2 separate regions of the Homo sapiens genome follow, and region 2 is linked to region 1. The links come from fine-mapping of genetic effects on gene expression. A gene starts in region 1. The other region holds a variant in brackets. All regions are shown on one strand. Distances are between the middles of the regions. Region 1 holds the start of DGKE (diacylglycerol kinase epsilon). Region 2 overlaps C17orf67 (chromosome 17 open reading frame 67).

Region 1 (11,097 bases):
GGAATCGACTCCATGTAACATACGAAAAGCAGCTTGCAGAAACACTGGATTCACACATGGAGGAGAAATGCCAACTCACAGGCAAGCACAGTGATGACAAAAAAAAAAAAAAAAACACTGCAGAGATTGAGGGATCCTTAGAGGATGTCGGTGTATGAAAAAGTATTTAAACATCCCCAGTTTTGTAGATGCTTATAAGGTGAACAGCACCAACGCAATGCTGATGCAGAAATTCACATCCCAGCGGGGCACAGCTGCTCACACCTGTAATTTCAACACTTTGGGAGGCCGAGGTGGACAGATCACCTGAGTCAGGAGTTCAAGACCAGCCTGGCCAGCAGTGAAACCCATCTCTACTAACAATACAAAAATTAGCCAGGCATGGTGGCGGGCGCCTGTAATCCCAGCTACTCAGCAGGCTGGAGCAGGAGAATTGCTTGAACCTGGGAGGTGGAGATTGCAGTGAGCTGAGATCGCACCATTACACTCCAGCCTGGGCAACAAGAGCAAGACTCCATTGCAAAAAAATAAAATAAAATAAAAATCACATCCCTGGTTCAAGAACTCAAAGAAGAGAGGTTTAAAGAAGAAAAGAAAAAAGAAGAGAGATCCAGACTCTCTAAGCAACAAGAAGGGCTGGCAGAGACGTTATCTATGCTGGAGTCCCTGGAAGAGGCCATGGGAGTCACCCCATCACAAGGAGCTTTTCCACACCAGCCAGGCAGCCAAGAGCCAAGCCCTGCTGCTCCCTTCCCCAGGAGGGCTTGGGTCTTAGGGCAGCGCTGTTCTCTCCCCTCCACTCAGGCCTCCAGAGCTGCCAGGCCAGGTTCTCCCATGTTGACTCCATCCGAGGGTCCCTGAGGCCAGTGGATCTAGGGGAGCCCCTTTTTGTGTTGAAGTTTCCACCTTCCCCTTCTGACACTGCAGCCAGCTCCTTCATGGTTGATTCCTCCAAATCTAAAGAATACAGGAGACCCTGGAGCACATCAGCAAAGTCTGGATTCTCTCTCATTAGCAGCAAAAGAAATGCCATACTTTAGAGCCTCATCTTTTGCTCAAACTGAAACATCATCAAACTGCATTTCTCAAGACAATGCTCTGTAAATATTATTTATGTATTAATCTCCTAGGTGAACAATTTCTATTTTATCCTCTACAAAATTATTGCACTTTGAAAACAGATTTCATTTATCAATACTTTCGGTACTCAACTGCAATATTTTTTCTAGAGTTATAGTCCCAACAATTTTAAGTCATAAGTTAAAGCACCATTTTTTGGCTTGAGTATGTATTTGTTGAAAAATTTGGCCGGGCGTGGTGGCTCACACCTGTAATCCCAGCACTTTGGGAGGCTGAGGCAGGCGGATCATGAGGTCAGGAGATCAGGACCATCCTCGCTAACATGGTGAAATCCCGTCTCCACTAAAAACACAAAAAAAATTAGCCGGGCGTGGTGGCGGGCACCTGTAGTCCCAGCTACTCGGGAGGCTGAGGCAAGAGAATGGCGTGAACCTGGGAGGCGGAGCTTGCAGTGAGCCAAGATCGCACCACTGCACTCCAGTCTGGGTGACAGAGCGAGACTCCGTCTCAAAAAAAAAAAAAGAAAAAGAAAAAATTTATGCAAAGGGAGATTTATTTTGGGATAAAGTAAAAGGGAATGTTTAAAGAGAAATTTCTATAATATTTAGATTCAAATAGTGGATATTTTTCAAAAAACAAAATTAATAAATTACATGGAGATGGTTTTATTTCACTACAAGAGTGATGTAGGGAGAGATTTCTAAGAAGAAATCCCCTTGGACAACATTGGGGAACCCCACATCACTTTTCCCCATCTCCTCTCAATTAGCCACCACGCCTGGCTAATTTTTTTTTTGTATTTATACATTTTTATTTTGGTATGTAAGAGAGATACCTGACAAAAGTAACCTGAATTAAACTTTCCATTTAAACTTCCTCTGTGTCTTTATGTTGAGTCAGGCACTGTATTTAGATAACTGTAAATTATTTATCAAGTATGAATGGAGGTCACTCACCCTAATAGTTAAACAGACTGGATTTACATAAATGTGGGGCAATCTTGGTAGGGGTGGTCAGCAAGGCCTCTGTCGGGAGGGAGCACCTGGGCAACGAAGACATAGGGAAGAACTTTGTAGGAAAAGGGGGTAGAACTGACAATAGCCCTGAAGGGGGCATGAGTCTGGTGGGCGTGAGGACCATGCAGAGGCCAGAGTGGCCTGAACTCAGTGAACGATGGCCAGAGTGGTAAATGAGTGAAGGGTACCAGGGGTCTGAGAATGGAGGGGTTTTCCCCACAGTAAGAGTTTCATTTCAATATAAAAGTTCAGAGGCAGCCTGCAGGGAACATAGTAAAGCAGGAAGACCAGGTGGGAGGCTGTGACAGTCATTCAAGGGTGAGAATGGTGACAGCTGGACCAGGGGAGTAGTGGAGGGGGGGATGGAGAGATGGGCTCGAGTCCAGGACCTGTGCTGCTGCCAGAGACCGAGAGACTCACTGAGGCCTGCGGGTGCCAGAGAAAAGGGGAGTCAGGATGAGGACAAGGAGTCCACTGTGAGCATCTCCCTGAGGGGTGGTGTCCTTTGCTGGAACAGAGAGGGATGGCAAAGGACGGGCATCTGGATGATAAATTGGAATAAATGTTTGGGAGGAGACTTGGGAACAGGACCTTTTGACACTAGAGTAGAAATACCAAGTGCTCAGATGGACATAGGTGGAGAACTTGGAGGAGCAATCACAGCATCAGCAAGGAACGTGGAGGATCATTGGGGCGTGAAGTTACTATTACACAGAAGTCCAAGTCCTGGGCAGATTCCAAGGGGTGAATGAAATGAGTCTGCTAGTGACCAGAACCCTCCTCAGGTCTCCCAGTAGCCACAATACCACAAAAAGCCTCAAGAGTGACCTCCCCAAGTCTGTTCCCATTAGGGGACTTGAGTTGTGCAGAATCCGTATAAGACAGCCTCCACCAAACACGTGTCTATGCAGGTCCACGTGCCATGTACATACGTACGACTGATGAAGATCCCCTCCTTGACCAAGCTCTAGCCAGGCTTCCCTGAGCCCCCTTTTCAACTAGGCCTCCACCTTGGCCTATGAAATCTGCAGACTTCAGCAAAAAGGATCGGGTCCATCCTTCCCCCTATATCAAAACGCTTAAACACACAGTTTCTTTTTCTTTCTTTTTTTTTGAGACGGAGTTTCGCTCTGTCGCCCCGGCTGGAATACATTGGTGCGATCTCAGCTCACTGCAACCTCCGCCTCCTGGGTTAAGCAATTCTCTGCCTCAAGCCTCCCAAGTAGCTGGGACTACAGGCACTCACCACGATGCCCAGCTAATTTTTTGTATTTTTAGTAGAGACGGGGTTTCACCATCTTGACCAGGCTGATCTTGAATTCCTGACCCCGTGATGCACCTGCCTCGGCCTCCCAAAGTGTTGGGGTTACAGGCGTGAGCCACAGCGCCCGGCCTAAACACATAGTTTTTAACTGCTCAAAGCTGCATCCATAGGATGACCCCAGACCCCCTAAAGTATCTTCCTGGGAAAGCTGCCAAAAGAACTCACTGTTGGCTATTGCCAACACCTTACAAGCAGCCCCTGATGTCCCTTTCTTAAAGAGTTAACAACAACAACAAAAAACTAAACAATTGTGAATCCTTCCTCTGTCTCTCTGGGATGTAATGTCTCCTACACATCAGGAGTATCCTTCTCAAGAACCTGAAAGCCATTCCTCCAACATGCAATCACCAGGAAGCAAAGGGCCTATCTCCCAGTTACTGTGGGAGGATAGGACCCTGACTCCCATAACAGCCATCTAACAGGCACTGTCGCCTAACCTTACTTACACTGACCCACCCTTCACAAGTTTCACTTTCCTGACTACTGAGTTCCTGCTCATCCCCTTCACATTCCCTCCTCCTCCCTCTTAAACACCTAGTCACTTCTGCACAAAGTTCAGTTCCGTTCACGAGGTACCTTCTTCCCTATTACAATAGTATATTATTAAAATCTGCTTTACCACTTTTACTAGTGTCTAGCTTTATCTTCTACAGTTAATACAAATATACGCACATACACATGCATATATATGCACACATAATAATATATACATACACACATACACGTATATATACATCTATATGTGTATTCTTAATGAATGTTATGTCTTCTCTAATCGTTTGGAAGATATTATCAAGTATTTCTTTGCAGTTTTCCTATGATCTCTGCGTTTCTTTTCTGTTCCTTTGGTCCCTTGCTTCGGTGTGTGTTTTCTTTCCATCTTTTATGCTAGAGGAAGTCCGCAAGCAACAAGTGGTCCTCGGCTCCCACTCCTATGTATGTATGTAGTAGGAAGGAAGCCGCTGAGTGCAGCTGTGCGCGCCGGGGCGGTGCCTGTGCCTCTCTGGATTCCGTGTTTCTTCGGGGGTGCTGAGCAGCGGTGCTTCCGCGTCCGCGTTCTCCGGGTAGCTGATGTGCTGCAGGCTGCAGCCCGCGTGGTCGCGGCTCAGGTCCGTGTTGGGCTGGTAGGACTCCAGCGGGGAGCGAGCATTCCTCCGGAACCTGGGGCTGGACGACAGCAGCAGGAGGCGTGCTCCCATCTCCGGTAGTCCCCGGCTCCCGCTGCTCCCCTTTCTCCCCGGCCTCGGGCGCTGGCGGGCGCGGGCGAGGGGGTAGCGCAGGGGAGGCCCGCCCGCCACGGCAGGGGGCGGAAACCGCGGCCGGGCTCGGGGTCAGCGGCGACGAGCGGGCGGCTGCCCCGCTCGCCCTCGGCCTCCGCGCCCGCCCGCCGCTCCGCAGCGGAGGAGCCCTCAGGTTTGCGTTACTGCGGCCGCCACACCTACCTCAGCCCGCCGCGGCCAGGTCGGGCGGTGCCGCGCAGGCCGCCTCCCCCCCTCGCTTCCCAGTCGGCTTACGCATCCCCGGCGGCGGCGGCGCCGGCATCGGCTAGAGGTTCGGCTCAAGTCGGGGGCACTCGTGTCTGCGCCGAGCGGCGGGCGTGAGCGCGGCCCCTGGGCCCCGCGCGGCGCGGTGCTGCGAGGAGGATCCTCGTGGCCTTGCCCCGCCGGCGGCTTTCCAGAATTTTCTACGATTACGAAGTTTTGGCATTCAACCCTCCATCCTCTCAAACGCCCCACTGTTACTCCGCCCCCTTCCCCTAGGCCCCGCCCCCAGCCGCAGTGCCCTGCCTCTTCCATCCGTCTCCAGCCTCCTCCACGGCCCCGCCCCCTCAGGCCGGTCCGTCTCCCCTCCCACCTCACACCTCCGCCCCGCCCGTCAGCCCTGGCTCCGCCCAGCCACGGGGCTCGCCGCCACAGGCCCCGCCTCCAGCTCGCGGCCCCGCGCGCCGGATCGGCGTGCGTGCGGCTGGAGCCTTAAGCGTTTCCCCCGCCCGGCTTCATCCCTGCTGGCGGCCCAGCGTCGTTCTCCTCCTGCGCGAGGCGGCCAAGGCCTGCTGGCCCGGAGCCGCGCCTCCACCCGCGCGAGGTAGGGCTTCGAGGACCGGCGCGGCGCAGGTCTCCGGAGGCCTCCCGAGAGGGGCTAGGGTCGCCGGGCCGCGCGTGGGAGCGGGTGGGGCCCGGGAGGAGACGGCGCCCCGGAGGGGAGTGCGAGGCCTGGGCCGACGGTTACGGGCGCCGACCGGCGTTGCCTGGCCTGAACGCCCGGCCTTTCGGTGGAGGGCAGCTTGCCCCTGTATGTTGCGCCCTTCCGTGGGTCAGACCGGCGGCAAGGTGAGGCGGCGGCGGCAGCAGCAGCCGCCTTGGGCTCCTGGACGCGCTCCCGAGGTGGGGCGGGTTGGGGAGTGGGGATTGGAGCGTGATGGCTGGACGTCGCCTTCTCGGCGCGGCAGGTCCCGGGAGACGGGGGGACGAGGCGCAGTCCCGCCCTCGGGAGAGCGGAGCCACCTTCACTGAGGGCGCCCGGTTTGGCCCCGGAAAGGCAGGAAGGGGGCGGGGAAGGGATGGCGAGCTCGGGGTGCACCGCCTGTTTCTTTTCTGGTTAGGTATCGTCCTTGGAGAAGATGGAAGCGGAGAGGCGGCCGGCGCCGGGCTCGCCCTCCGAGGGCCTGTTTGCGGACGGGCACCTGATCTTGTGGACGCTGTGCTCGGTCCTGCTGCCGGTGTTCATCACCTTCTGGTGTAGCCTCCAGCGGTCGCGCCGGCAGCTGCACCGCAGGGACATCTTCCGCAAGAGCAAGCACGGGTGGCGCGACACGGACCTGTTCAGCCAGCCCACCTACTGCTGCGTGTGCGCGCAGCACATTCTGCAGGGCGCCTTCTGCGACTGCTGCGGGCTCCGCGTGGACGAGGGCTGCCTCAGGAAGGCCGACAAGCGCTTCCAGTGCAAGGAGATTATGCTCAAGAATGACACCAAGGTCCTGGACGCCATGCCCCACCACTGGATCCGGGGCAACGTGCCCCTGTGCAGTTACTGTATGGTTTGCAAGCAGCAGTGTGGCTGTCAACCCAAGCTTTGCGATTACAGGTATGGTCTTCGTGGACACTCACTGTCCCAGAATGCGCCGTGGGAATCAGGATTTCATAGAGTGGTGTAGAGGCCTGCTTTAATCTCTGCTGATGACCTAAACTCATTTTGAGGAAACAAGCTAATAAATAAACATCCCTGAGTTTGTGCAAGCGTGGCAGCTTTGCAGTAGTCATTTGCTGAGACGATGCATCCAGCCTCCACTCCTCAGCCAGCCTGCCCTTTTGGGTAATAAAACTTGGCTCCTAACGTTAATACAGAGGTTTCTAAGTGGTGCCTGCTTCATGGCCACTGTATATTTTAGCTTTTGTTCCTATCGATTATCTCCTTATTTTAAATAAGGAAAAATGAAATATGGACAAATTAACTTTTCCCTTCAGCCGCAAAACTGATGGGTCACAGGTTTTGTACTATGAATGTGCAGTGAAAACAAGTGTCATTCCAAGGCAGCACTTTTATGTCTTTTGCTAATATAGCTGTTGGTACCATAGCGAAATATACTCAAAAAGAACACTGAAAGGAATATTCCTTTTGACGCTTGGTCTTTCAGGACATGTAGAATCTTAGATAAGTGACCTTGATTAAGCCAAGAATATTTTAATGTCTTTTATATACACACTGGACAACACATTTTTGTCCTTAAATATTGTTTGAAAATAGGTGAAGATGTCCTTTGCTGATGTTGGAAATTGGTAAAGGAGAATGCTGCTTTGCAAATGATCTATTCTAACTCAGTTCACAGTTGAGAAAATTAAAGCCCGTTAGGTCCACTCTGGTAAAATAGGACTGGCCTCCAGGATTTCCAGCTCTGGACTAACACTTAGCCTCCTTTGAGCCTTAAGTCTGGACATCTTCATTGTAATGGGTTTTATTTCTGACAAGTAGAAAGGCGCATAAACATGCTTAAGAAATGAAATAGGCAGTAAATAGGAAGCTGCTTTTTAATTTTTTTAATTTTTTTTGCAGAAATTCTTTCATTAGCATGAACGCTATTATAATGTCAATACCTGTTTTTAAGTCTTATTTTAAATAATTTTACACATTATCAAAGAGGCTTAAGAATAAATGTTCAAAATAATGTATTCTAGACAACTACAAAGTTTTGTAACCATGCATTTTTATTTGGTATCTTTAAAAATTAAATGCTGTCCTTCTGGCATCAGTGAGAGCCAAGTTAGCAGGGACTTTAAATAAATTTCATAATGAATTGAGTATTGTTCTATTTCCTTCCCTTCTCTGGTGTAGCCTCCAGCAGTCTGTGTCTGTGCAGAATTATATTAAAAATGGTTTCCATAAATAACCGTATTTCAAATACTCTTGAACACATAATCATGCTTCTGATCCTCCACCCAAATGATCTTTCTAAAAATGCAAATCTGATCAAGTCCCTGCTCTGCTTAAAATCCTTTAAATTGCTCCCCATCGGGTAAGCTGACTGTTTTACAGTGTAAACCCCTAAGTGCTTTTTCACAGGGTACATAAGGTCCTAGTACTTTCTGGCCTCTGTCCTTTTAGTTTTATCTACCACCACCTGCATTAAACTTTATGCACCAGCAACACTAAGCTTCTTGTAATTTCCTTAAAACGTCAGGCATTTTCTGACATTTCTGCCCCTTTGCTCAAAGCTTTCCTCTCAGTATTCTTCTGGCTAGCTTCTAGGCACCCTTAAAGACCCATCCCATGTCCTTGTCCTTTCCTTCAGGAACTCTTACCTGATCTACTCAGCTTCCCTCCTCCCCCAGTTTTTCCTTTTTGGTGATAACGTAATATCCTATATCTCAGTGGTTCTCAAAGTAAGGTCCCTAGACCAGCAGCATCAGCATCTCTTCAAAATCTGTTAGAAATGCAAATTCTAGGGTTGCTAGATTTAGCAGATAAAAATAAAATATTGCAGAATTTGGAACATAAAAAGTTTCTCTGAAATTCAAATTCAACTAGGCATTGCCGTTTTTTTGTTTTTTTTTTCTGGCAACCCTAGCCCAACCCCAGACCTACTAAATCAGAAACTTGGGCTGGACATCAGCAGTCTTGGTTTTAACAGGCCCTACAGGTCCTTCTAAAGATGGAGAACCACTGCTATATTTACATATCTTTAAAAACATGCACCTCCGTCTCTTAATTTTGTATCCTCCCATTGAGCACACTGAATCTGTGTGATAATAAATCTTCTTTTCTTCATTAGTGCATTTTTACAGAGTAACCCCTTACCCCATGATAGAAATTGTCTCTGTGTAATTTAGGAGATGTTTATTATTCCCAAGAGAAGAGACCACAGTGTCCTGAAGTTGTACATATTCTACAGTGTTCTGAACTGATTTATGTTGGCCAATAATTGTATACAGGATTACAGTCTCCTGTGACCTTCTGTAGGAATGAGATATTTTGGAAGGAGAAACAAAATAAATAGCTACTTAGAACCTTTAAACACAGACCAGACAGTCCTCTGGATTTTATCTAGCCCTGAGGAGAGCTCCTTCCCTGTCTGCATCTCATTCTTAGGGAAGTGAGTGAACTCTGCAGACAAGTTACATTTCAAAGGACACTAATGAGAGATGATGACTGAGTTTAAAGCCTGCAGAATAAGTGAGAAAGGCCCTTTAATTTATACTCATTCGATCATTATACTTATTGAGCATCTATTTTTGTTCTAGACACTGCTAGAGTCTACTTTGTCTGTAGATTTTTTCTTTTTGTGTGCTCCTGTTTCTACCCCCAACCACTACATCTTCTTTTTCTTCTTCTTATCTCTCCTCTGACTAAAATAGGGAATTAGGTTATATTTTTACATATTCAATATATTTATTAAATGAACCTTTGTTTCTTGTAGTGTTCTATCTCATTAAGAGAAAAAGAACTTAAAGTGCTTTTTAATTTATTGGACTTTTTATTCATTACATCTACCCCACGCCTCACACACAATTACTGTGATTAGTAAAACAAAGCTGCTGACTCTCAGAAGGCAGTTAGATTGGCCTCAGTGTAACTAGTCTCAGCTTTGATCATAAATTTTGTTTCTATATTCTATTGGTGTGTGTTTATTCATTTCATTAATTATCTGAAACAGTGAAAGATACCAAATCATCTTCTAGAGCAGAGGTGGGCAAACTTACTGTAAAGAGCCAAAAGAATTTTCGGCTTTCCCAACCATTTCGTCTGTCATAATTACTTAACTCTGCCATAGTTGCAGTGCAAAACCAGCCATGGACAATACATAAATGAATGAGCTTACCTGTGTTCCAGTAAAACTTCATTCACAAAATCAGATGGCAGACATATTTGCAGTTTGCAGAACCCTGTTCTAGTGAATCTTATAAATGACCATCTCAACTTTATGTATAATTCAGCTGCCTCCTTCAGCACACTAAAAAAGAGAGCTATTGTGACCAGGTAATTTTTTAGAGAAAACAAGCCTTGTTAAACCTTTTTTTTTTCTATAAATACTACTGCACAAGAACGGCATATAAATTCATGAGGCATTCCATATTTTCATATGAAGGAACTTTCTAGAGTAATGTTCTATATCTTGATAAGGGTTTTAGTTACGTATGTTCATTTATCAAAACTCAGGAAGTATATACGTACATTTCATTGTATGTAAATTTTACATGAAAAGGAAAAAACATCATGAATTCTAGGTAGTGATAAGCCTATTTGCTGATGTATTCAGGAAGTATTCTGATGTCTTCAGTTTACTTGGAAATGTACTAAAAATAAGATGAATTAATGGATAGAAATGTGACAAAGCAATTACAGTAAGATGTTAATGGTAGAATGTAGGTGGTAGGCATACCTGTAAAAAATATTTTTAAGTAAAATATTTTAAAAAGCAAGTAAACTATTCTTGCTTTTAGAATATATTTGCTAAAATATTGAAGGGTGAGATCTCATACTGTCTGCAGTTTACTTTCAAATGATCAAAAAAATATGAATTTATATGGAAAGAGAATATTGTGGGAGAAAATGTCATTAAGAATCAGCGTGAAGGGTGGGCTTAGGGTATTCATTTTGCTATCCTTTTGACTTCTCTGAAAGTTTGGAATTTTTCAAAATAAAAAGAAAAAAGATGATAAGCTGTTACCCAATGACATGATGCTAAAGCTGAAATACCAAGACATTTTAGTAATGTCTTATCTTCCCAGTGAGTTTGAAATCTAGGTTGTTAAATACCAATTACAACATAGGTAAAGACAATAGGATTCAGGTTTGAATATGGTATTTCTAAAGAAGAATGTAATACTGAGTAATTAGTAAGCATTTTATTTTATTTTGTTTTTTGAGACAGGGTCTTACTCTATATTGCCTAGGCTGGAAGACGGTGGCAAGATTATGGCTTACTGCAGCCTTAGCCTCCCAGGTTCAAGCAATCCTCCCACCTCAGCCTTCCAAGTAGCTGGGACTACAGACATGCACCACCATGCCTGATATTTTTTTTTTCTTTTTTGTAGAGATAGGAGTATCACCATATTGCCCAGGCTGGTCTCAAATTCCTGGGCTCAAGCAATCCTCGCATCTTGGCCTCCCAAAGTGCTGGGATTGCAGGCGTAAGCCACCATGCCTGGCCCTAGTAAGCATTTTAGCTGTACCTTTATAGAG
Region 2 (11,097 bases), 35 kb before region 1:
AGGCAACTTGCCCAAGGGCACAGAGCTGGAAATCAGAAAGTCAAACTCAGCTCTGGCCAGTTCCAGAGCCTAAGCATCCAATTACTCCACAGTGCTGTTTTCTGGAAGAAGCCAAGTGAGGGCTTCCAGTGCTAAAAGACAAAGGCCCTTGGTGCAGGGGAGGCCAGCACCCTGGGAGTTGGGAGCCAAGCCCAGACACACCAGAACCCTGACCTAGAATAGAGCTCCAGCAGCTGGAAGAATTAGAAGAGGGATGTAGCCCATCCCTACCCCTCAAAAGCAGAACTTCTATTCCACTGCCAGCAGGTGATCCTCTCATTATCTGTGAAAGCTCCCTCAGAGTGATTTCATGCCCACACACACACAGGACTGTGCAACACGGTCCACATAAAGCATGCAGATTTACGGTGGTCAGAAGCCTAGCATACCAACCACTGCTTAGCCTGAGTTAGTAGCTTAATCATGCTCAATTAGTTCCTCTTTAAAATGGGGTTAAAGTGCATGCCCTGCAATGACACCAGGGTATTAAGAGGATCATGTGAGGCAATTTATGTTACATTATAAAGAGTGATTAATAGGAGCGTCCCTGTGTCAATTCACAGTAGCACAAAATAAACAACAAAGGTATAAGATTTCTCTTAACCACAAAGATAAACTACCTGATTATATCTTGTCCTGCTTGGTCCACAAAACTTACAGAGGAGAAATGAAATTCACTGGGCTTACCCTCTGAAGGAATTTTGCTACCTTATCTAACAGGATTTGGAAAGGGGGGAAGATGATGAGGACAGACAGGGAGAAGCAAACAGCCTCATCTAGGCACAGAGGTACAGAGTTGGGGGCATGCAGGGTGTGGGGGGAAAGCTGGGCAGTACCCTGCTGGTGGGCTGAAAACAGAAGCCCCAGGGAAAGGGAAAGACAGAGGGTGGGCTGGGCAGATTGGCAGCCTTGAAGGCTGCAGGAAGGCAGTAGGGAACAGGAGCGAGATCTGGGAAAGAAGTTGTTGATCCTGATGACAGTGGTGATGATCATGGTAGATGTCACAGGTTGACTCCACGAATGCTGAGCCCACCTGAAGAGACCCAAGTCTCAACAAAACACACTTCTCCACATTTGGGGTCCAGAGAGAGCTTTTCTGCATGGCAAATAGGGTCACGTCCCTCCCCATTCGGGATCACTTTGTGATTCAATAAAAGTTGGGCTCCCCCATTTGTCCCCCAGTGCTCCTCTCAACCTGGCTCCCCACTATGTCTCCTGCCTCACTCTTGCCACCCCCATTCCAAACCCATAACCAGCTAACCAGCTGGCCCCCCTGAGGCATGGTCTGGAAAGTCTCCCAGCCCATGCCATGCTGTCCCCCACCACTCCCTCAGACAGAGGTCCGGGAGAGAGAAGGAGACGTACCGAGGCTGGTCCTGATCCCCTTACACAGGATGAATCCTGTTCCTGTCACAGTGGGGTTTGCAGTGAGGGTTCAGCCAGTGCTCCAGGAACTGCTCCTCAGCGCGATGCTCCAGGGCGAGCAGGTGGTGCATGTATTCCTGTCAAAACAAACCACACTGAAGAAGGCTTCACCCACAGTGACAGCCAAGGGATCAATATGCGTGGTGTGGCTCTGGCTCCCTAGACAGGGCAGGATGGGAGGACAGGCAGGGAGAAGAAATCAACGGCCACACCCATGCCTCTCTGTAGGGAAGACCAGTCAGACTGACCCACCCAGTGGGCAAAATAAAGAAGTCTGACAATACTAAGTGCTGAGCGGGTGGATTTCCATGAAAACATGGGACAACAACTTCAGAAAACATCTGATTGCCTGCAATCTAGAAATTTCACTCCTACTTTATACCCTAGCGCAGTGGACGTCAAACTTTATCAGATATCAGAGTCACCTGATATCTGATATTACAACACAGATTGCTGGGCCTATCTTACAGTTTCTGACTCAGTGGGTCTTGGGTGGGACTTGAGAAGTTGCATTTCTAACAAGTTCCTAGCTAATAGTTATATTGCTAGTTGCTCTGAGAACAAAAGAAACTCTTATATCAGGAAAGGCATATAAAAATGTTTATAGCAGCAATAAATTTGTCATAGCAAAACACTGGAAACATGCCAAATAGCCACTTACAGGAGAATGAATCAATAAATTATGTTAGGGTTATGCCATGGACTATTATACAGCAGAGAACATAAATTATACTGTAGCTATATACAACAACATAGATGGGTCTTAGAAATAGCATACTGAGTGAAAAGTCCAAGTAACTACATTTATAGTGTGACACTATTTTTATAAAGTTCAAATATGTGTAACTAAATCATGTAATATATTACTTATGGCTATATGCATTTCTGATAAAATCATCTTTTTTAAAAGACAAGGGATAAGCAGAAGAAAGCTAGGGTTGCTATGCTAATATCAAACAAAAAGACTTTAAAATATAAAAATGTTACTAGAAATAGAGAAGCATTTTGTAAAAATAGTCTGGCAGTTCCTTACAATATTAAACCTAGAATTACCATTCGTACTCCTGGCTAGCAACTGTACTTGTAGGTATATACCCAAGAGAAACAAAAATGGATGTCCACACAAAAACTTGTATACAGATGTTCACACCAACATCATTTGTCACAGCCAAAAACCAGAAGCAACCCAAATGTCCACCAATAAATGAGTGGATAAATAAAATATGCTACTTCCATATAATGGAATATTATTTGGCAATTAAAATGAATGAAGCAGTGATCCCTGCTACAACATGGATGAACCTTGAGAACATTATGCTAAGTGACAGAAGCCACTTAGGACACTTATGTCACAAAGGACCACACGGTGTATGATTCTGTTCATATGAAAGGTGGCCAGCCCCATACATTAATCTGTCCACAACAGAAAGCAGCTCCTTGCCCTGACCAGTCCTGCCCCTTACTGTGGCCAGCATCTCCATCTACTCAGGAACCCGCTCCAGAACACCAACTGTCATTGCCTCACTCACCCTCAAACTCAACATAAGACTGAGCATCGGGACGTTGAGGCTATCTCCGGAATAGTTCTCAGATGCCCTCCCTCGTCTCTGCCACTTCCCTAGGTCAGGTCTTCACCATTGTCCACCAAGGCTGCCGCAGACTCCTCACCCCTCTCTCTGTCCCACCCCTGCGTGTTGCATTCCTCCCACCCCATGCCTCCTCCCTCCCCCATCCCTGCTCCACTCTGACAGAGTGACCCAAAAGGGGTCAAAGGTGGCCCACCAGGGCCACCTTCCTCCTCGAAGCCTTCACCAGTGCTGTCTACCTGCAAGGAGTCAGCATCTGCCTCTACCCACGGGTTTTGTCTGTGGCTCTGGATAATGTACTTGCAAGCCAGCAGATGAGTGCAGCTTTGGGTAGGATTCCCCTCCTTCCCCCACTCCTCCCAACAGCAGGGAGTGGCCCTGCCCTCCCACCTTGGTCTACAATGGTCATTGACAGCCTTTGTTAATCTCTATGCTTCTCAAAAACGCAATTTCTCCCTGAAATGGTTGCCTGAAGAGACTTTAATGAAGGGAACATTCATAGCCATGTGAGTAGGGTTAAGGGAACTATCAAAGAATATTCTAGCACCCAGGGACTAGCAATAGAGGGAAGTCATGACCATGTCTAAGTTTGCAGGGCCAAGGGTGGAGAACCCTTAGAGGAGCCATTAGGCCTGGGGCCAGGTGGGTGGGGCTGCTGTGGTCTTGGGGGCACAGCACAACCTTTGCAAGGCAAGGAGGGAACAGGGAACAAACAGCCCATCCTCTCCCTCCTCTTCCCCTCAATATCCTGCAGGGCCCAATCAGAAGCCAGCTGGCCAGGGAACCAAGGGATTCAGTCTGCAGGAGTCAGTCTCCTTGAGCACAGAGTGGGGCACAGCAGGGTGGAGAACGGACTGGGGTCAGGGCAGAGAAAAACCGCGTCCATACCAGGATGATGAGGAGTGGCAGGTGTGCTACCACCAGAGAAGGGAGCAGACAGCACAAATAACAGAGGGCCATGATAGGGCCTCTCTGCAACCTGCAGCTCATCAGCCTCTGAACACACCCATCCTTTGCATGAAATTTTTGTCTTTGCATCTCCTCTCTCAGTTGGCTCGTGCTCTGCCCTTTATCAACAGGAATGTCACTTCCAGCCTTTAGGGCTGGCCTTCTCCTCCAAATGCGCCTTGGTCTTCCCCGAAGCCAGTTCAGGCTGTGAATTTTCTGTATATGGGTTACTCATGGCATTATGTCCTATAAGTGATGCATAAAACAGAAAAATGATAAAACAACAGGACCTCTCTTAAATAAAAGAATAAAATGTGATTTCTCTTGTCTTAGTCAGTTATAAGCTCTCCTCCTTCCCTCTCCATCTTCTAGTGCAATCTCTGGCCTACAGGTACTGCCTATCATACTGAAGGTGGTTCATCATATCTCTCTTCATGGCACCACATTGCTAGTTAAGCAAGAAGCTTCAGCGCACTCCTCTTCCTTGCCCTCCCACCATCTAAGCAGCCTAACTCCTGTGAATGCTCCTGAATCCCTTCTACCCAGCCCGACTGCCTCTGCCCAGCTTAGGCCCCAGCCCTGGGGCTAGACCCCTGCCACAACCTCTGCAGGCTCTTACTACCCCTTGTCCTACCTTCTTCTTCTTGTGGGGTTTTTTTTATTGTTTTATTTTGTTTTCTTAATAGGCATTATTGTTTACAGCAGTTTTAGGTTCACAGCAAAATTGAGCAGAAATATAGCATTCCCATATATCCCCTGTCTTCACACAGGCACAGCCTCCCCCACTACCAACATCCCCCACCAGCATGGGATATTTTTTACAGTTGATGCACCTGCATTGACACAGCACCATCACCAGTCCATAGTTGATATTAGGGCTCACTCTTGGTATTACACAAATGCATGGCAGTCGGGCATCATGGCTCACATCTGTAATCCCAGCAATTTGGGAGGCTGAGGTGGGCAGATCACTCAAGCTCTGGAGTTCGAGACCAGCCTGGGCGACGTGGTGAAACTCTGTCTCTACCAAAAATACAAAAAAAAAAATAGCTAGATGTGGTGGTGCATGCCTGTAGTCCCAGCTACTCAGGAAGCTGAGGTGAGAGGATCTCTTGAGCCCAGGAGGTAGAGGTTGCAGTGAGCTGAGATCGCACCATGGCACTCCAGCCCTCGGAGACAGTACGAGCCTTTGTCTCAAAAAAGATAAATAAACACAAATAAAAATAAAAGCATGGCACCAACATCTCCTTCTGATGAGGGCCTCAGGAAGTTTCCACTCATGGCAGAAGGTGAAGGGGAGCTGATATACACAGATCACATGGTGAGACAGGAGGCAAGAAAGAGAGAAGGTGCCAGGCTCTTTGCAGAAATCCGTTCTCATGGGAACTAAGAGTGAAAACTCCCTCATTACCGCTATTCATGAGGGATCCACCTCCATGACCCAAACACCTCCCATAAGGCCACACCTCCAACACTGGGGATCAAATTTCAACATGAGACTTGATGGGGCCGAACAAACCACACACAAACCCTAGCACTACCATTGCAATATCACACGGAACAGTTTCACTGCCCTAAAAATCTGCTTTGCTCTGCCTGCTCATCTGCCTAACCCCTGGCAACCACTGATCTTTATACTGTCTCTATAGTTTTGCCTTTCCCAGAATGTCATACAGTTAGAATCACAGAACATGTAATTGAATTTTCAGATTGGTTTCTTTTCTTTAGTAATATGCATTTAAGTTTAACTCCATGTCTTTCCGTGGCTTGATAGCTCATTTTGTTTTAGGGTTGAATAATATTCCATTGTCTGCATGTATCATAGTTTATTTATTCATTCACCTGGACATCTTGGTTGCTTCCAA[A/G]TTGGAGTAATTATGAATAAAATTGCTATAAACATCTGGGGGCAGGTTTTGTGTGGATGTAAGTTTTCAACTCCTTTGGGTAAACACCAGGGAGTGTGATTATTGAATCGTATGTTAAGAGTACGTCTGGTTTTGTAAGAAACTGCCAAACTGTCTTCCAAAGTAGCTGCACCATTTTGCATTTCCACCAGCAATGAGTGAGAGTTCTGTTGCTTCACATCCTCACCAGCATTTGGTGTTGTCCATGTTCCAGATTTTGGCCATTCTAATAGGTGTATAGTGGCATCTCGTTGTTTTAAGTTGCATTTCCCTAATGATGTACGATGTTTCACATGCTTACTTGCCATCTGTATATCTTCTTCAGTAGATGTCTATTCAAGTCTTTTGTCAGAATGGGTTTTTAAAATATAAAGAACAAAAATAGCTTTACTGGTTTTTATTTTTATCACAACAGTGATACATATTACTTTCTTAAAGTCATGAAAAAAAAAAAGAAAGTTATAAAGAAGAGGTTGAAAAATCCCTCTTGATTTTTCTGTATCCTGTTGCAAACTAATTTTTTTTTTTTTTTTTTTTTTTTTGAGACGGAGTCTCGCTCTGTCGCCCAGGCTGGAGTGCAGTGGCGCCATCGCGGCTCACTGCAAGCTCCGCTTCCCGGGTTCACGCCATTCTCCTGCCTTAGCCTCCCGAGTAGCTGGAACTACAGGCACCCACCATCACACCCGGCTAATTTTTTGAATTTTTAGTAGAGACGGGGTTTCACCGTGTTAGCCAGGATGGTCTCAATCTCCTGACCTCGTGATCCACCCGCCTCAGCCTCCCAAAGTGCTGGGATTACAGGCGTGAGCCACTGCGCCCGGCAGCAAAGTGATATATTTTTTTAATTTACCCACGTTGCTTCTTCACTTAAAATGTCTGTATGCCTCCCACTGGTCTCAGGAGAAAGTTCTGATTCCTTAATATGGCTAAGGTCTTTCCATGACCCAGCTACACCCATCTCCTGAGCCTCTTCTCTCACCATCAATACACTTGAGCTTTGTTCTCCATCTTTCCCTGAACGGGCCATGCTTGCTGTTCTTTCTAAGGCTTCCAAAGCACCTGTTGTTTGCTCTGCCTAGAACACCCCTGTACCTTCTTATTTTCCCATCTCACTCTTACCTGACTTTTCAGGCCTCAGCTTAGATGTTACTTCCTCTAGGAAGCCTTCTCAGATTCCCTGTGACCCCACTTCTCTGGGTCTCCAAAGCTCCATAGACTTTTCCCAGCATAGCCCTCCCTGGTCATTCTGTGTGGCAGTGAGCTCTCCCTGAGAGTGGGGACTTCATTGGCCTGCCTCATACTGTTTAGTGGAGGTCGTAGGTGGGTTCGCTCATATATTGGTATCAAAATTGGATGTTCCAGCTGGGTGTGGTGGTGCACACTTGTAGTCCTTGCTACTCAGGAGGCTAAGGCGAGAGAATTACTTAAGCCCAGGAGTTTGAGGCTTCAGTGAGCTATGATCGTGCCACCGCACTCCAGCGCAGGCAACAGGGTGAGGCTCAAACAAAACTCAAAACAAAAAACTTGTTCTTTTATGTTCCCTCCAAAGAGAATGGATAGAGATGGGAATGATTTTTAACTTGGAGTGTGTTTTTTATATTGCCCTGAAGGAAATGTTGGTGCTGTAATTATAGGATGTGAACCATTACAAAGTATGCATAGAACAGGTCCATACAAACAGCAGGCCAATAATCAGAGAAGTGGCATTTCACCTTAGGAAAGAGTAGACATACTCAGTCATATTTGTGATGTGATTAAATTGTTTTTGGCATGTATCAATATCATAAAAACTCTAAATCATGGAAACCTTCCTATGGCATTAAGAAGGCTTTAACAAAGGGTCGGGTCCACTATAGAACTCTAAGTTTTTAAGTTTTTAGAACACCCTCTAGGAACTCTGCATTCTACATCAAATGTACTCATTTAAAAAGAAAAAGAATGTGCAAAGGAAGGAATTATGAAGTGTCCAATTTTTCTGATTTTTTTTTTCTTTCCCCCAAGACCCATGCAGTTTGGATTTGTTTTGGTTATGGTTGTTGTTTTCATTTAACTCATCAAAATACACTCAGTGTTCTGGCAGGGAGTCTCTGGGTCAGCTGGGGTAGAGGGCAGATGGTGAGAGGGCTCCTTGTGGGATCCAACAGTGATTCCCTGGCTGCTTTCTGAACATGTTTGCGGATTTGGGGCTGAGTTCCTTCCCTATCCAGGGAGTCTTTGGCCAGAAGAATAGTAATTGGGAGGAACAGGAAGGCCGTGTGCAGTCTTGTAAATAAGGAACAACAAGTTCCCAGCATATAACTTTACTTGTTCAACTATTCTGTGGAAGCAGCACACTGAAGGAACCCCTGCTGCCTGCTTCTTGCTGGCCTGTTTGCCAGACAGGGAGGAATAGAAGCTAAGAGTCTGAGTCTCCTTCAAACCTGGACCCTGTCATTATTGCTTTACCTCTCCAGCCTCAGTTTGTTCATCTGCAAGATGGGGATTGCACTAGCACTTGCTTCCTTAAGTTAGTTAACTTGCTTCCTTGGGTTAGATACTAAATGAAATGGTGCAAATAAAGTTTTGTGCCAAATAAGTAGCCTGCATTTGTCCCTCCAGATCCTGTCTGTCTCCCTTTTCGCCTGGCCGTGGGACCCAGATTAATTGTCGCCGTAGACTCCCTTGGCCTGTGGCTTCTGGTTGAGTTTCATCAGTGGGAGACACCAGAACGGATTAGAAGGTAGGAGGAGGGAGAGGCCAGGGTATTCAATCCCCTAGTTCCTCACCAAGGAGTCACAGCCACACCAAGCATAAATACAATCTCAAAAGAAATCATTTCAGCTTGAATGTCATCTTTTTAAAGAATTTCCACAGTTCACCTCAGCAATTGGCTGCATCCCTCTCCTGAAGGCCACAGCTCCTAGGAGGCTGTCCTCTCCAGCTCCGGGAACCGTCTGCCTCCCTTACCCCTTTATGGTCTAGAGGTTGTTAACCCTGATCTTTTATTATTTCTTGTTGGTTTGCCTTAATCCTGCCCACGCCTTTGTAAAAAGTCTCTTTATTAAACACTCTTCAGGTACCCAGTCTCCTGCTGGGATCCCAATACTACAGGGCCTTGGCACATGATTCTTGGCACATAGTAAGAATGCATTAAATGCTAGCTGTTAACTTTGGCTACTATTAGATAACAAAGATCTGAGTACACATCAAGATTGTGAAGGAGAGCATCTTTCCCAGGAACTGGTACACAGGAAACTTTCCGTAAAGGCTTGTTGAAGAAAAGACTACAGCATCATTCTTCAAAGCGTGAGCTGTGCTCCCCTCAGAGGCCCATAAGGCCAAACTATTTTTAGAATAATACTCAGACATTATTTGTCTTCCTGCTGTATTGGCATTTTCACTGATGTGCCAAGGCAGTGGCAGGTAAAATGACTGGCGCCTTAGCAGGAATCCAGGCAGTGGTACCCAATTCTATTAGCGGTCATCGTATCCTTCCCCACCACGCACTTACAGTACGAAAATAAAAATAAAACATTCTTAAAATGCCAGTTGCCCTGAAGAATGCCCTGGTGAAACAGTATAGAGTGACCCAAAAGGGCATATGCAGGCAGTACTTCTGCTGTATGACAAAGTGCAATGGGGTTTCACAAGGAAAAGCATGTGTGCAATTGCTGGTGTTGAACTGGCTATGCATGTTTTATGTGCATGTTGGGCAGACATCTTGACAATGAATGAAGTGAGCCTGTCACCTCAAGAAAAACAATTTACAGTATTTATTAAATAGAACTTCCCAGAGGAAACCAGATTTTGGAAAACTTACATCTGCTACAGAAGGCTGGCAACTTCCCAATACTTAAAGACTTTTATAATGAGATCACTGGTGATATTAACGAATGTCACTACTGATACACAGTACCTTTTATAATTATATACTCATTTGCATCTTTACTCATTTAATCTCTGTCCCTCTCAGCCAAATATCCACCCAGTTTTTTTATGGCAGTGACCAAAGTATATCTGGTCTGTGATTTAGTGCTTGGCACACAGTAGGACCACAACAAAGCTCACTGGAAAAATGTATAAAGGAGCAAATGAATAAATGAAATAACTGTTCTTTCCCTATAATCTTGCTAAATCCTCCTTGGAAATTTTCTTGATATCTGTGTCAGTCTGCTCATTATAACAGCCTAGGCCAAATGTACATTAAAAGCACCAAAAAGTAATATATATTTCACACTCCTAAACACCAACTGAAATAATCATTGAAGAAAAACAACCAAAACAGACACACACTGAGAATAAGAAAGAAATGAGCACTGGTTTCCATGACATTTCACTATTTATTTAAAATATTAGGAAAACGAATATGCCACAAAGGCTTAAAAAGCAATCATTAGTCAAATCAAAAGGCAAATTGCAAATCTGCTGAAAACCACAAATTCAACAATTGCACTGGCTGAGTTAGAAATGGCCCAACATTAAGGATAATCTCAAATGTTCCTGGACCAAGGAAGAAGGGGTATATGGAAAATGAGTTTTAATTTCTTCAGATTCCTTTCTCCAAGTGGGGGGGTGTAAATCAAAGCAAAACAAAAACCAGTATCTGTGTTCCATGTCAAATGCCAACTATAATGATTTAAGTAAATTATTTCTCAGTAATTAGAGCAGAAATTAAAAGTAGTCCTTTATTATGGCTCTGGAGTGGTGTGATAATGAACTTAAATACCCACCAGAACTTGACCTATGCTGAGAATCATAAAGTGGACAGTTATTCTATCAAGGCAGGACCTTTTTCCAAGAAGGCAAAATACTTCCTGTGACATTTTTGCAGAATTAAAGATCCATCAGCATTTGGAAAAATTATTTTGCTCATTAGTACAAGCAAGGTAATCCTATATATAGAATGGTGGCTCAGAACTTAACTGCACTGGAATACTGAAGGCTCCGTCCTAAAGAAAGGCAGAACAGTGCTGTGGGCAATTTACACCTCGGTCACTCCAAACTGGCCTTTGAGGTAATGGGGAACAAAAGGGTAATGGAGTTACTACATACATTTGTCAAAGAGCTAAACATGAAAGCATATTTTACAAAGACTACTTACAATAAAGCTAAAATGATTTATATTTGCCCAACAAGAACACTCCTTAAAGGATCACAGGCCAAAATGGAACACTTCCAAGAAAAGTGTATTCCCAGGTTTCACAAGCACTTACAAA

Evidence for each region. PIP is the estimated chance that this variant, and not a neighbour inherited with it, causes the effect.
Region 2: its variant is the best candidate, but not a certain one, in a credible set for the expression of DGKE in whole blood (INTERVAL, PIP 0.55).

The regions. Positions count from the first base shown.
Region 1 is chr17:56,828,756-56,839,852 of GRCh38, forward strand. DGKE (diacylglycerol kinase epsilon) reads left to right here and starts at 5,396. Exons shown (of 12, transcript NM_003647.3): 1 at 5,396-5,505; 2 at 6,023-6,504. The coding sequence starts at 6,041. C17orf67 (chromosome 17 open reading frame 67) reads right to left here and starts at 5,165. Exons shown (of 8, transcript NM_001085430.4): 1 at 4,863-5,165; 2 at 4,143-4,587. LOC124904036 (a long non-coding RNA gene) reads right to left here. Exons shown (of 3, transcript XR_007065857.1): 3 at 7,605-9,865. RefSeq lists silencers at 4,393-4,687, 4,661-5,730 and enhancers at 5,055-5,652, 6,121-6,520, 6,252-6,849, 8,740-9,295.
Region 2 is chr17:56,793,640-56,804,736 of GRCh38, forward strand. C17orf67 (chromosome 17 open reading frame 67) reads right to left here. Exons shown (of 8, transcript NM_001085430.4): 7 at 1,405-1,541. The coding sequence ends at 1,425. Among named protein-coding and RNA genes, the nearest start is that of C17orf67, 35 kb to the right of the region's middle. The variant A/G (reference allele first, on the strand shown) is at 5,864.